Homo sapiens: one gene and its partners. The protein of the gene in region 1 purifies or fractionates together with the protein of each later gene. This does not show direct contact. Each region holds a gene or a part of one and is shown in the gene's direction. Other genes may lie near its edges.

Region 1 (3,500 bases):
TTGTAGTTCCAGGCAATTTTGTGCCCTTGAGGTGTCCAATTGATAGTATAGCTTGCCTCTGCTAATAAATACACAAAAGTTTTCTTTCCTGTGATTTTCAGAAATTATTTTTGGAATACAAAGATTAATAAGGAATATGTGATGTTTATCTCCTGCATTTCAAAATCTTCTGGATTTTTTTTGAGGCATGAGGAGCAGGTAATGAGATTTTTTTTCTGAATATCTTGATTCTCTCCCTTAACCCAGATTTTGCATATTATGCATTGCTCATTTGTCACCTACAAAAATAAAGGTTAATGATTATTTGTTTGCTTTTGTCTATATAAGCTCCCTAAGGCACAGACCATGTTCGTTTTTCTTATGTTCCTCTTAGCACTGTGCCTGGTGCCTTGCCATATAAAAGGTACCCTATAAATATTTGTTGGCTGAGTAATCAGAGAGCCCATTTCAAAATCTAAATTATACAAATCATCAAAGACCAAAAAAAAAAAAAAAAAATCTCTTGACAGTTGATGCTCAAATGCATTTGGTTCTGTGGAGCTTATCCTGAGATTGAGGTCTGCACCTTGACTGGAGAGGAATTTGGACTTTACCTCACAGGTAGCAACAAAATGCCTGAGTAGCAACGTCTTTATACTGCACAGTTCCAGTCCTGCCTGCGTGAAAACTGAGCAGAGCATGGTGGGGACAGGAAGGTGTCCCTAAACCCTGTTGATGACCTCCCATCTATCCCCGGACCCCCATATCTCCTCTGCTCATCCCCTGTTCCCCACTGGCCTCTGATCAGTTGAAAGGGAGCTTTTCTAGCCTGGAACCTGAGCCTGCCTTGATTATCCTGGGCTCAGAACAGGTCCACTTCCACACTCTTTCCTTGCAACCTACAGATGGCCCTACTGACTGCTGTTGTCCAGGAGAAAGACGAACCTCCCAGTGGAATCTTGTCAGGAAAGGCATCCCTCTGGGGAGCTTTCTTTGGAGAGGAAAATTCTGGGACAAAGTTCCTCAGGATGCTCTCAGGCTGGTTTTTGTCTTGAAGATTTTATAGTAATTGTACCAATGTTTATTAACTCTCCTAGGAACATCTCTGTCTTTGGTTTTCTGACAGCACTCCAGCAGGGCCCAGGGCTTTAGCTGAACAGTGCAATTGTTTTAGGAATAAAACAGTCAACAAGTTAGAGACCAACTATTTATATTTAATATTCAAATGACTTTAAATCATTAAAAGAATCAGCAAATTACATATGAAATATTCAACGAATAATCTCAACATTAAACATATACCATGTAAGAACTGTCATTAAAATTACTAAAAATATGATTCCTTTAAGATCAGTTCAACACAGAAGAAAGCAGGAATTTGGCCTGGACAATAGGACATTTATTGTCTGTTAGATTTTAGACAAGTCAACTCTTCTAAATTGGCTTCTCATCTATGAAATGGGGATAATAGATCTGCCTAATTAGGTTGATTTGAGATAACGGATGTAAAACACCTAATAAAATAAGCATCCAGCAAATGACTTGTTCACTCTCTGAATACAGACTTCTGGTCATGTAGTTCGGTCACACTCCTGATAGCTTCTAGAACATCAGGGTTTTAGGAGAAATAGGTTAAAATGAACATCAAGAGTAGCAGAAGACTACTTTCCTTAATATTTGAGTGCCAGCTATATGCCACACAGTTCTAGTTGCTGGCAGTCAGCAGTAAACAAAAACTTCACCTGATGCAGCACATTCCAGGTGGGGGAACAAGTGAAAATATAGGGAATATTAGTGATAAGTGCAGAGGGAAAAAAAATAGAGCAGGGAAGGGGGATGATTTGATGTTTTTCAGGTTAAGAAAGTGACAGAAATGAATTTAAATGCAAAAAACAATGCATAAAGATTCATAATGGCAAAACGAAGCATGTCCCATCATACCCCTTCATTCCTACCTCCCTGATATGTATCTTTCTAATTATTCATACAAATGTGTATACCCAGTTATTACATATGGGGTTTTATTCTACATATTATGCTGCACTTGCTTTTTCTAATATAATGTGTATCATGAGCACCTTACAAATTTTTAAAGGTCTCTCAAATTTATCAGTAAACATATACAGTCTAACGTTAATGAGAAGATATTTTGGTGGGCAGTTTGCTTTAAATAAATGGGATCATGTACGTTCTCTGCATCTCACATTTCTCATTTAACAATGTAGGATGAGAATTTCTCTAAGTCTATCATAGCTCTTATTTCCTTTTTATTATTACAATAAACATTCCTGTGTATATGTTTGTCACCATGATGGTTTTACGTCTGCGGAATAGATTCCCTGGAGTAGGATTGCTGCATTGAGGAGTATGTATATTTAAATTTTTAAATAAATATTGACAGATTGTTTCCCAAAGTGGCCGGAACAGTTTTTATTTCCATCAGTAAATGTATAAAAACACTTTTCCCTTAATACTCATGGCAATAACTATTGTAACATTAAAAAATACGTAGAAAAAAGAAAAAAATCCTGGTGGATGTAGTGATTTTTCAGTGTTATTTTAATTTCCATTTTCCTGACTACTATAAATGTAGACATCTTTTCAAATGTTTTGGTCATCTGGATTGCACTCAGAACTGAATTATCTATTCAAAGTTCTGTAGGTTAGAACTCCAGGGAAACTCAACTGGGCTGTCTGTTCAAGGCCCAACAAGGCTGAAATGAAAGTGTCTTCCAGGGTGGGTACTCAACTAAAGCTCTGAGGAGGAATTCGCTTCCAGCCTCATTAAAGTCAGAGGATGGAGGTCCCTGTCTCCTAGCTGACTGTCAAATCTGATCCTTTAGAGGTTGCTCCGTGGTCCTTGCACGTGGTCCCTTCCACCTTCAAAGCTTGCCAGGGTGCATCAAATTATTTTTATACTTTGACTCTACTTCTACCAGCCAGAGAAAACTGCTTTTAAAGGGCTCTTGTGACTAGTTTAAGCACACCCAGATTGTTAAGGTCAACTGATTAGTAGCTTTAATTACATCTGCCAAGTCCCTCTGCCCTGCAATGTAACATCAACCATGGAAGTAACATGAGGGGCAGAGTTCATGGGGGCCATCTTAGAATTCTGCCTACCACAAATATTCGTAGTTATACTTTTATATACATTTTTAAATTTTTCTTATTTTTGGTCCATATGTTTGTACCGTTTGTCTTTTTAGTTAACTAGTTTGTGAAAGCATTTTGTATGTTGTACAATATATGTTCAGATTTTCTTATCTTGGATGCAAACATTTTTTTCCAACTCTTGTAAGTTGTCTGTTGACCACATTCAAAAGTACTTTTTCCAAATAAAACTTTGCCTTTTGAATTTCACTTGAGTGAATTGCATATTTGCATTTTAAAATGTTTATTTTGTTATTTTATTAAAGTTTTGCCCATGTTCCACTGTGTTTTTTAAAATTTGCAGGTGCTCTTTTTATACTACATGTAAACCCTTTTTCTTACTATTTGCCAGTGTTTTTCTCCAAAACTAT
Region 2 (3,500 bases), on another chromosome or scaffold:
CTTCTTCATACATCCTTGTGCTATAGGTACTCCCTATCGTACATCTTTACAGGCAGATGTCATGAGTGGTTTACTACACAAAACTTCTCTGGTGCTTTTCTTCTCATCCCTTTTCAGCCCTGTTCTCCATTTGAGGGACTGCATGTTAAGGTCTCTAGCGTGAAATTCGGAAGACATTTTCAGCCTTCCTCTTACTTGACCTTTAGCAACCCTTTGATTATGTCCTTCTTGAAATGCTTTCGGGGATGGAAGGCTTTGTGATGCTGCTTTGTCTGGACCATGTCATAATACTCTCCAGGATAGCCCCTTTGTTCCCATGACTTCATGTATTATCTCTCTATGCCAGAGACTCTTTCAGCTGTTTCTCTAAGCTCCAAACACACATACCTCTATCTAGTAGAATGCTTTTCAAGCATCTCAAAGTGAACATGTCTAAAACTGAACTTGTGATAATACCGCAAATCTGCTTTTGACCATTTTAGTGATGGGGAGTCCTTCACACAGGCAGAAAACTAGGAAATGTCCTTAACTCCTCCTTTTTACCAACACTTTTTCTCCTAATCTGTCACCAAGACCGCTTGATTTCTACCTCCAAATTAAATTTACCTACTTTTCATTTTCTTGCCTAGACTGTTGTAGAAACACACCCAAGCTAGTCTCTTAGAGAAGCTTTTCTTTCTTCTTCAATCTAAATTATATTCTGTTGTAACTTCCTGTATTTTTTCTTCCTGGGGCTTATTACAGTTTTTACCATGAGTTTATATAACAGTGTGTAGCACACAGTACTTGTTTAGTAGACAAGCTGCTTTTGAGGTTGATCTGTAATTCATTTTACTTTAAAAATTCTTCGAATGATCTATTCACATGGCTTCACTCATATTGACTCTTCAAATCTGGATCTCCCATAGTTTATGGTTTCCATGATGTAAGTGACTGCCTCCTGGGAGCTTCACCTGAGTAACAGCAGAGACTTCAAACTTAATCTTGTCCTCAACTAAACTCTCATTTCCCATCCTGCCCCCAAAACTCTTGTTATTTATTTTACTCCAGGAGTCACCCAAGCCATAAAATTTGACTTTTCTGTTTAGGTTGTCTTTCAGCTTATATCTCATGTTATTATCTTCTTGTCTTCAGCCATTCAGTGCAGTTTCCACATTGATAATCAGGGAATCCTTTTGAAAACACAGATGATATACTAGTCTTGCTTAGAGATATTAAGCTTAGTATCTAGATTGTTTGGTGTAACCTGCAAGGTTTTTCACTTTTCTGGTTCTGCCTTCTTTTGTGCTTTCAACTCTGGACTCCTGTTTTTGTTTGTTTGTTTGTTTTTGAGACGGAGTTTTGCTCTTGTTGCCCAGGCTGGAGTGCAGTGGCACGGTCTCGGCTCACTGCGACCTCCGCCTTCCGGGTTTAAGTGATACTCCTGCCTCAGTCTCCTGAGTATCTGGGATTACAGGCGCCCACCACCAGGCCCAACTAATTTTTTGTATTTTTAGTAGAGGCGGTTTCACCGTGTTGGCCAGGTTGGTCTCGAACTCCTGACCTCAGGTGATCTGCCCGCCTCAGCCTCCCAAAGTGCTGGGATTACAGGCGTGAGCCACTGCACTTGGCCTGGACTCATCTTCATTGTCCACCTCCTAGGCTAAATTTATGTCTTTTATGTGCTTGTAATCTCTGCATACCACTTTAGTGACACTTGCCCTGGAGTGTGATTGGTAATCCCTCTCCCCACTAGATCCTTGAAGGCAGGACCTGTGTTCCCTGTTTAACCATAGTTCTCAATTAGTAATTCAAATTTGGGTTGGGGAGAGCTAAGTGGTAATTTTTAATTCCTTCAAATTTTCCATGAATTGGACTAATTTAAATTCTGGTCAGAGATAACAAAGGATAATACAATTTGATCTATGATTATCTTGTGATAAATACTTAATGGAAGTTAAATTATTTTTAAAAATCACAGAAGGTAACTCAGGTTACAAAAATACTTTGCAGAGAATCAGATATCACCAAGGAGAGAATTCAGAAGATCCTGGCAACTGGTGCCAATGTTATTCTAACCACTGGTGGAATTGATGATATGTGTCTGAAGTATTTTGTGGAGGCTGGTGCTATGGCAGTTAGAAGAGTTTTAAAAAGGGACCTTAAACGCATTGCCAAAGCTTCTGGAGGTATGTCTTGTGCTGGCTGTCACATAAAATACTTTTATTATCCCTGATCCTATCAAAGGTCTTTTTACATTGGAATATTGACAGAAAACAGCTCAAAAACATTTATATTCTCTTAATGCTTTGTGCTACCAACACATTTATAGAGCCATTTTTCATGTAACTGGAGAAATTTTGTTGGAAATTTGTGAACTGAATTTGTTCATTTCTAAAATGACAGTTCCATCTTAGGATAAAAGGAGTTACCGTGTGCTGCCTAACTAAATTCTAAACTTGTAATATAGCACTTTTACCACAAATGCTACTGAGTCCAAGGATATTAAAATCATGAAAGAGCAATATTCACAGATCCTTTGTAACTCTCTTATTAGCAACTATTCTGTCAACCCTGGCCAATTTGGAAGGTGAAGAAACTTTTGAAGCTGCAATGTTGGGACAGGCAGAAGAAGTGGTACAGGAGAGAATTTGTGATGATGAGCTGATCTTAATCAAAAAGTAAGAGCCACTTTCTAAAATTGTAAAGTTATACCGATTTTGTTAAGTAAAAGTAGGTTTTCTTCCCATTTATTTGCTGCTTGTAGTCTCACAGTGATACGAGCAGTTATACGCATGGGATAAAATAACATTGGGCCACTGTAAATTGAGATGAAGTAACCATTTTCATCTCTTCTGCAGGGACTAGACATTGTTTCTGTATAGTATATCTAAATATCCTGTGTAGGCAGGACTTAAGGGAACTTTATGTAGACTTATTTTATTAAAATGCCATTTTTTTTGAGAAATTGATGGTCTTGGCAAAAAAAAATTTTTAAAAATGCTATTACAAGAATTGTACTTTTGTTTTGAACAGTACTAAGGCTCGTACGTCTGCATCGATTATCTTACGTGGGGCAAATGATTTCATGTGTGATGAGATGGAGCGCTCTTTACATGATGCACTTTGTGTAGTGAAGAGAGTTTTGGAGTCAAAATCTGTGGTTCCCGGTGGGGGTGCTGTAGAAGCAGCCCTTTCCATATACCTTGAAAACTATGCAACCAGCATGGTAAGAACAGTCATTTCTTGTCTTAGAGGCCTGAGAGCAGTAGCTGTGGACTTCAATTTTTTTTTTCCCTTTTGTGAAGTCACCTAATTTTCTTCTTTTCCTAGGGGTCTCGGGAACAGCTTGCGATTGCAGAGTTTGCAAGATCACTTCTTGTTATTCCCAATACACTAGCAGTTAATGCTGCCCAGGACTCCACAGATCTGGTTGCAAAATTAAGAGCTTTTCATAATGAGGCCCAGGTTAACCCAGAACGTAAAAATCTAAAATGGTAAGCATGGTTTCCCGCTCTTTG
Region 3 (3,500 bases), on another chromosome or scaffold:
GTGTTCTGTTTGAGGAAAGATCTAGAACTAGGCACAGAGGACACAGTGGTGATACAGTCTAGTAGTAGGGAGAGACATTAATCAAGTAATTATTTATTAATGTGTGTGTGTGTGTGTGTGTGTGTGTGTGTGTGTGTGTGTGTGTGATTGCAAGCCATGATAAGGACTGTAGTGAAAACTTTAACATGCCGTGGGCACATATAACAAGAGTTGTTTTGAGCATATGTTCTCAGGATCTCCTGAGGGCTGTGTCATGGAAAAAAAATTGCTTTTACGAGACAAAACTTTTATAAGACAAAAATATCTAGTTGATTGAGAGAGACGTAAATCATGTCAGAAAGCTAAACTGGCATTGCTGCAGAAAGATGAGATAGAGTTGAACCAGCAGGTAGAGTTTGGTGATGGTGAGAATTGGGAGACTCTGGAATGGGGCCATTCTTATGGTGAAGCATTTGGTCAACAATTGAGGGCAAGAAGCCTGAGGATGGGGTGGAAACTCCAGGCTTAATTCCAAAAGGATTTCTTCTGAATCTTCCTGTGGGAGGGGAAAAAAAATGGTTTATTTGTTTGTCTCAAAAGTTAAGAGCATGTATATGGAAAGAGCTTATGACTCATATAATCCTCATTTTTACTTACTGGGGGAGGGACTCTGGGTCCTGGGTCTGTAGTTTAGATGTGGCTCCTCAGAATGGGGTATATGAGAGAGGAGGGTGTATCCCTAGATGTTATTAGCCTAAGGGGTGCCTGGAGTTTGGAAGGTAGGTGAGTCTCACGGAAATAAGAACAAGTAGGCCCAGCCCTCAGCTTAGCTGCATGGTCTGTGGGAAGTGGGATTCTTTCTAACATTGGATAGATAGTGTATATAAATAGACAAGACTCTCCATTTACATTGTATACAAGTAAAGGATGAGTGGGGTGTGGAGGGGGAGTGTTACTGATTTTGCGTGTTTGAAAGGAAACAGGGTTGGGGAAGCCACAAGTCTTGGGCTTCCTGAAGGAGCCAGGCTCTGGGACCAGCTTGAATGTCGGGAGGATGGCAGCGTAGAAGACGGTGAGGTGGGCTGTGAGGAGAGTTTGGTGGCACAGCCTGTGGGAGGAGCCTGGGTGGCTGGAGAGAGATGAATGGAGGAAATGGGGACGAGCTGCCTAAGAAACGTGGTGATAGTTGGCGAGGGAGGAGACAGGAAGACCTTTGACAGAGGAGATAGCTGAGACCTCAGGTTCATCCACAGCAGGTAAATTCCAGGGCCACACGGGACAGGCGACGTGGGGAGTGTCTGTGGTCACAACTGGGGGCCCCAGCACTTAGAGCCTGTGACTCAGTATGTACACGTAGCACCAAATGCTTTTTGGTTCTGTCTTGGGCATCTCCGCACGGGCACTTCCGCCAGTGGTTTCTTCCATTGCCTTTGGGATGAGCAGGCCTCCTGAAAGCAGGCCTGATATTCTCTGGTCTTCTGACAAAGAATGGGAAATTTCTCACACCGTCTTGTTCCAGGAACCACCTGGGGATGGGATTTGAAGGGCTTGGGTTGCCGAATTGCTCCTAGAACCACAGGCTTAGAGGAGTTTTCTATGAACAGCGGTCCTGGCAGGGACAGACTGAGGATCGGTAGGGCTGAATGAAGACAATCCCACCTCCTTCAAGAGCCACCTCAACTTATGTTTTTTTCCCACAAAGCCCCCCCTCCGATTTTGCCAGCCTTTACTGATCACATCATCCACTTTCTCACAGACCTTACAATTTAGCATTGGCTTATATATTGCCTTATATTGAATAATGTTTTATGGTCTTGTTTTTCCTACCACTTCCTTATGTGTAGAGACTGTGATCCATATTTCCTCTTGATCCCTGTAAAGATGCTGAGCACACAGTAGGGGTTCAGAAATTACTTGGTAAGAGACATGGATCTAAGTATGTCTGTGACTGGACCTTTCCTACTAGATTCAATCCACAATTAGTACAGGGTGCCCAGTATATGCTGGGCACGGTGGGATACAAAGCAGTACAGGTGCTGACTCTGGTTCTCAGCCAGGGCACCGCTGGCCTCCAGGGGGTGTTCGGAAATGCTGAGGAGGGAGGATTAACTGTCTTGGGAGCACCGGGCACGGTGGCTCACGCCTGTAATCCCAGCACTTTGGGAGGCCGAGGCGGGCGGATCACGAGGTCAGGAGATCGAGACCATCCTGGCTAACACGGTGAAACCCCGTCTCTACTAAAAATACAAAAAAAAATTAGCCGGGCGCGGTGGTGGGCGCCTGTAGTCCCAGCTACTTGGGAGGCTGAGGCAGGAGAATGGCATGAACCCGGGAGGCGGAGCTTGTAGTGAGCCTAGACCACGCCACTGCACTCCAGCCTGGGCGACAGAGCGAGACTCTGTCCAAAAAAAAAAAAAAACTGCCTTGGGAGCACTAACGGCATTTAGCACATGGGGATTGGGGATGTTAACCATCTGGCAGAGTCTGGGACAGTGCATCGAAGAACTGTTTTTCCACCCGTATTGCCACTGGTACCTCTCATGAACTTGTTATGGACATGGGAGAGACCCGGGGAGGGACTGGACAGGTTTCTTCCATGAAGTAGGAAGTAGTTCCTAAGTCCCCTGTGTACTTCTTTCCAGGTAGAGAGAGGAATGTGGGCTCTAAATTACCCTTGTGCATGGCACATATCTAGCAGCTTTTGTCTGCTAGCATACCTCTGGAGGTAAAATAGGTAGGCTCCCAGCCAGACTGTAAGGAAGATTTTCATGTTCTCTTTTCACCACCCACCCACTCTTTCTTTCAAGGCACATTTTTAAGAAAGTGGCTGAAGCTTGCAATACTTAGTCTTTAGTTCTAAGTGACTCAGGAAAGAGTCTTCAAGAAAACAGTTGGACAGAGTGCCCCAAAGCCTAAGCAGCGTGAGGCAAAGATAGGCAGGTGCATGTGGCGTCTTAGAGAGGGGCCAGCACATCGTCTCTTCTCTGGGGTCTTTTCATCCTACACTTGTCTTTTTGAAGACAGAGGTGTGGTGAATGAATGTCATTACTTACATCTGGGGGAGTGACCAGAGACAGTAGAAGACACCTTGCCCTAGTGTATCCTTTCAGGGTGGACCAGTGGCTGGGAAGCAGCACAGCTGAGCGGGATGAGCTGGAGCTGTGCAGAGCTGCCTTCCACAGCTCGCTGTTTCCCAGTCCCAGTCAAGAGAGCAGAACTTGGTAGGCTCCTGGCCTTGGGTAGCTAAGGTTTGGAGGAGGTGGAGAGAGTCCGCCTAACCTTAACAAGGTCATTCCTCACAGTGGAAACTACCTGAGCCCCACGTGTCGAAGCAGGGTAGGGGGAACAGGCAGGATGTGGATCAGAAGTTGGTTTGGGCTGGGCGCAGTGGCTCATGCCTGTAATCCCAGCACTTTGGGAGGCTGAGGCAGGCAGATTACTTGAGGTCAGGAGTTCGAGACCAGCCTGGCCAACATAGTGAAACCCTGTCTCTACTAAAAATACAAAAAATTAGCCAGGCA
Region 4 (2,340 bases), on another chromosome or scaffold:
TCAATCCTTTATTTTTTTCTCTGTAAATATGTACAGTGCACGGGCTATGAGATAGCAACAAAAAATGCATAGTTAATGGTCATAGACTTTATTCCAAAACATAATTGGAAAATAGAAACTGAGCCATTGCCAAATGGTAAAGAAATGAAAAGTTTTCACAGTGACTACTGAATATACCAAGAGCTTTTGGCAGTACTGCTGGCTTTCTGGGTGATTAATTAGGTAAACTTGAATATTCCCAGTAAATGTTTGAGAATGCATAAAATTATACCAATTTAAAAATATAAATTTTTGCCACTGTTTTGTGAACGGAGGATTTGTACGCTAAATTTCATCCTTATTTGGCGTCAAAGTTGATGCAAAGTTTATGTACCATGAGACTTCTAGTGATTGCCTACTTTCACATTTATTTAAATTTTTGTGAAAGAAAATACAGTTTTAAAGGCTATAGGAATGTGTTATATGTACCTTAAACAGATAATTTAATTTTAGCAATTTATCATAACTGATACTTAGCTAACAATTGTCCATAACTTGTTTAAGTGTAAGAAATACCATTTCAGGAATGAAAAAGAAGGAATACTACTTTCTAAGAAAGAAGATCTTATAATAGACATATTTAGTAGGTTAAACTACTCCTTTGAAAGAATAAGTTTTGGTTCAAAGTCAATAATGAAGACGAGATTTGTTTTTCTCTTCTCTGGCTGATTTTTAAGGATATTATGTAGTTCATTTAGTTAACAGAATTGAAATGTTTGATATGGCAAGATAGGTATGGTAATTTCAAAGTGAATTGGGAATTCCTCTGGCTCATAGAACCCTTTTTTTTTTCCTTTAAGTATTCTTGAGATACAAAAAAAAAAAGTAAATACAATTTCAAAAAAAAAGTTCCGGATCTGTTTTTAAGCTCCATCTGGTCCTCATAACCTGCAAGATTTTTCTTAAAACCTTTCAGCTGAAAGTGGGGGTAAAGGTGGAGTAATCTGTGGATTTGTTTCTGTTGTCTTTTAAAATGTCAAATATATAATATGTAATTTTTTTAAAAACCACCAGATACAGAAATGTGCTTTAACATCAGTTGAAACCTAAATTTTCTTATGTTGTGGTGATTGTATTAAAAAGGGATAAAAGAAGAGTGTCAAACATGGTTAAATATATTGTACTCATTTATGTTGAATACGTATTAAAATTAAGACAAATGGAAAATTATACTTTGAGTATATAATTTGTTAAATATTACTTTATATGGTAATTTTATGTATAATTTCATATATTGGTAAAATTCAAAACTACACTTGAGAATTTTTTTATCTTAAGTTTGGGGTGAATGGGGTGGATGAGACTGATTGAATAGAAAAGGGCTAATGGCCCAAACATTATATAGATTTCTTTTTTTCAGTCAGAGGCCTTATTTGATATTTTATAAATAAATGACAGTTTTTATTTTTAAACTTTTTATTGTTTTTGGGAAAGTATTCCTTAATTTAATGACACATTCATTCAGATACTTCTTATCCCTGCTAATAAAGGAAATCTATTTCAAGCTACACCATTGAGATTAAGTCTGAGGCAGTTCATTGAGGCAGCTCTACTATAAAAGCTTACTTGATAAATAATTATTTTTGTAAACAAGTTGGGTTAACTTATTCTTCGTCTTTTTGCTTGGATATGAATTTAAGGTCTTCATGTTTAAAGACATTTACTTTGTTATTTAGTGACACATTTCCATCCTATTTTTTTTTTTTTTTTGGTTGTTGTTAAACAGAACCTTAAGTTTATGTTTGAGGTATGTACTGCATAGGAACCTATTTTATTATTAAAGATGAATGATTAAAATTGGTATGGTCTCCAATTTAATTTGAAAAGTGCTTACCCTTATTCTTATATATGGTTTAATTTTAAGGTTTTTTGTCTCTTCTTAGTGCAAAACTACTTAGCAGTGACCTCTATCTGTATTCCTTAGGAATTAGCAGCTTCTTAGTGTGGATCCTGCAGAACTTCTTACCATTTGTAGTAGGTTGAATCATGTCCCCTAGAAGGTAAGTCTAAGTCCTAACTTGATACACCTGGGAAGGTGACCATATTTGGAAATAGTCTTTACAGATGTGATTAGGGGATCTCAGGATATAATTACCCTGGATTTTGGGTGGGCTCCAAACCCAGTGACTAGTGTCGTTACAATAAGAGAGGAGGAGATATGAAACACAGATATAGCAGCATGAGGACAGAGGCAATGAGTTACGCAAGGACTGCTAGCCACCACCAGAAGCTGCAAGAGAGGCATGGAATGGGTTCTTCACGGGCTCCAGAAAGGACCAAGCCTGCTTGATTTCAGACTTC

Evidence for each region. Proteins that work in one complex are often made in the same cells at the same time.
Region 2: the proteins of STRN (region 1) and TCP1 purify together in Homo sapiens (affinity purification with mass spectrometry; 3 studies listed by BioGRID and IntAct, with this or other methods). This does not show direct contact.
Region 3: the proteins of STRN (region 1) and MINK1 purify together in Homo sapiens (affinity purification with mass spectrometry; 3 studies listed by BioGRID and IntAct, with this or other methods). This does not show direct contact.
Region 4: the proteins of STRN (region 1) and FGFR1OP2 purify together in Homo sapiens (affinity purification with mass spectrometry; 4 studies listed by BioGRID and IntAct, with this or other methods). This does not show direct contact.

What each region holds. Positions count from the first base shown.
Region 1 is NC_000002.12:36,837,537-36,841,036, reverse strand, and holds the end of STRN (striatin), read left to right. Parts: 3' UTR 1-3,339; downstream 3,340-3,500. UniProt on the Homo sapiens protein: Calmodulin-binding scaffolding protein which is the center of the striatin-interacting phosphatase and kinase (STRIPAK) complexes.
Region 2 is NC_000006.12:159,779,603-159,783,102, reverse strand, and holds part of TCP1 (T-complex protein 1 subunit alpha), read left to right. Parts: intron 1-1,992; coding exon 1,993-2,168; intron 2,169-2,536; coding exon 2,537-2,660; intron 2,661-2,721; exon of another isoform or gene 2,722-2,853; intron 2,854-3,015; coding exon 3,016-3,208; intron 3,209-3,312; coding exon 3,313-3,476; intron 3,477-3,500. UniProt on the Homo sapiens protein: Component of the chaperonin-containing T-complex (TRiC), a molecular chaperone complex that assists the folding of actin, tubulin and other proteins upon ATP hydrolysis.
Region 3 is NC_000017.11:4,839,840-4,843,339, forward strand, and holds part of MINK1 (misshapen-like kinase 1), read left to right. Parts: intron 1-3,500. UniProt on the Homo sapiens protein: Serine/threonine kinase which acts as a negative regulator of Ras-related Rap2-mediated signal transduction to control neuronal structure and AMPA receptor trafficking.
Region 4 is NC_000012.12:26,964,809-26,967,148, forward strand, and holds the end of FGFR1OP2 (FGFR1 oncogene partner 2), read left to right. Parts: 3' UTR 1-1,840; downstream 1,841-2,340. UniProt on the Homo sapiens protein: May be involved in wound healing pathway.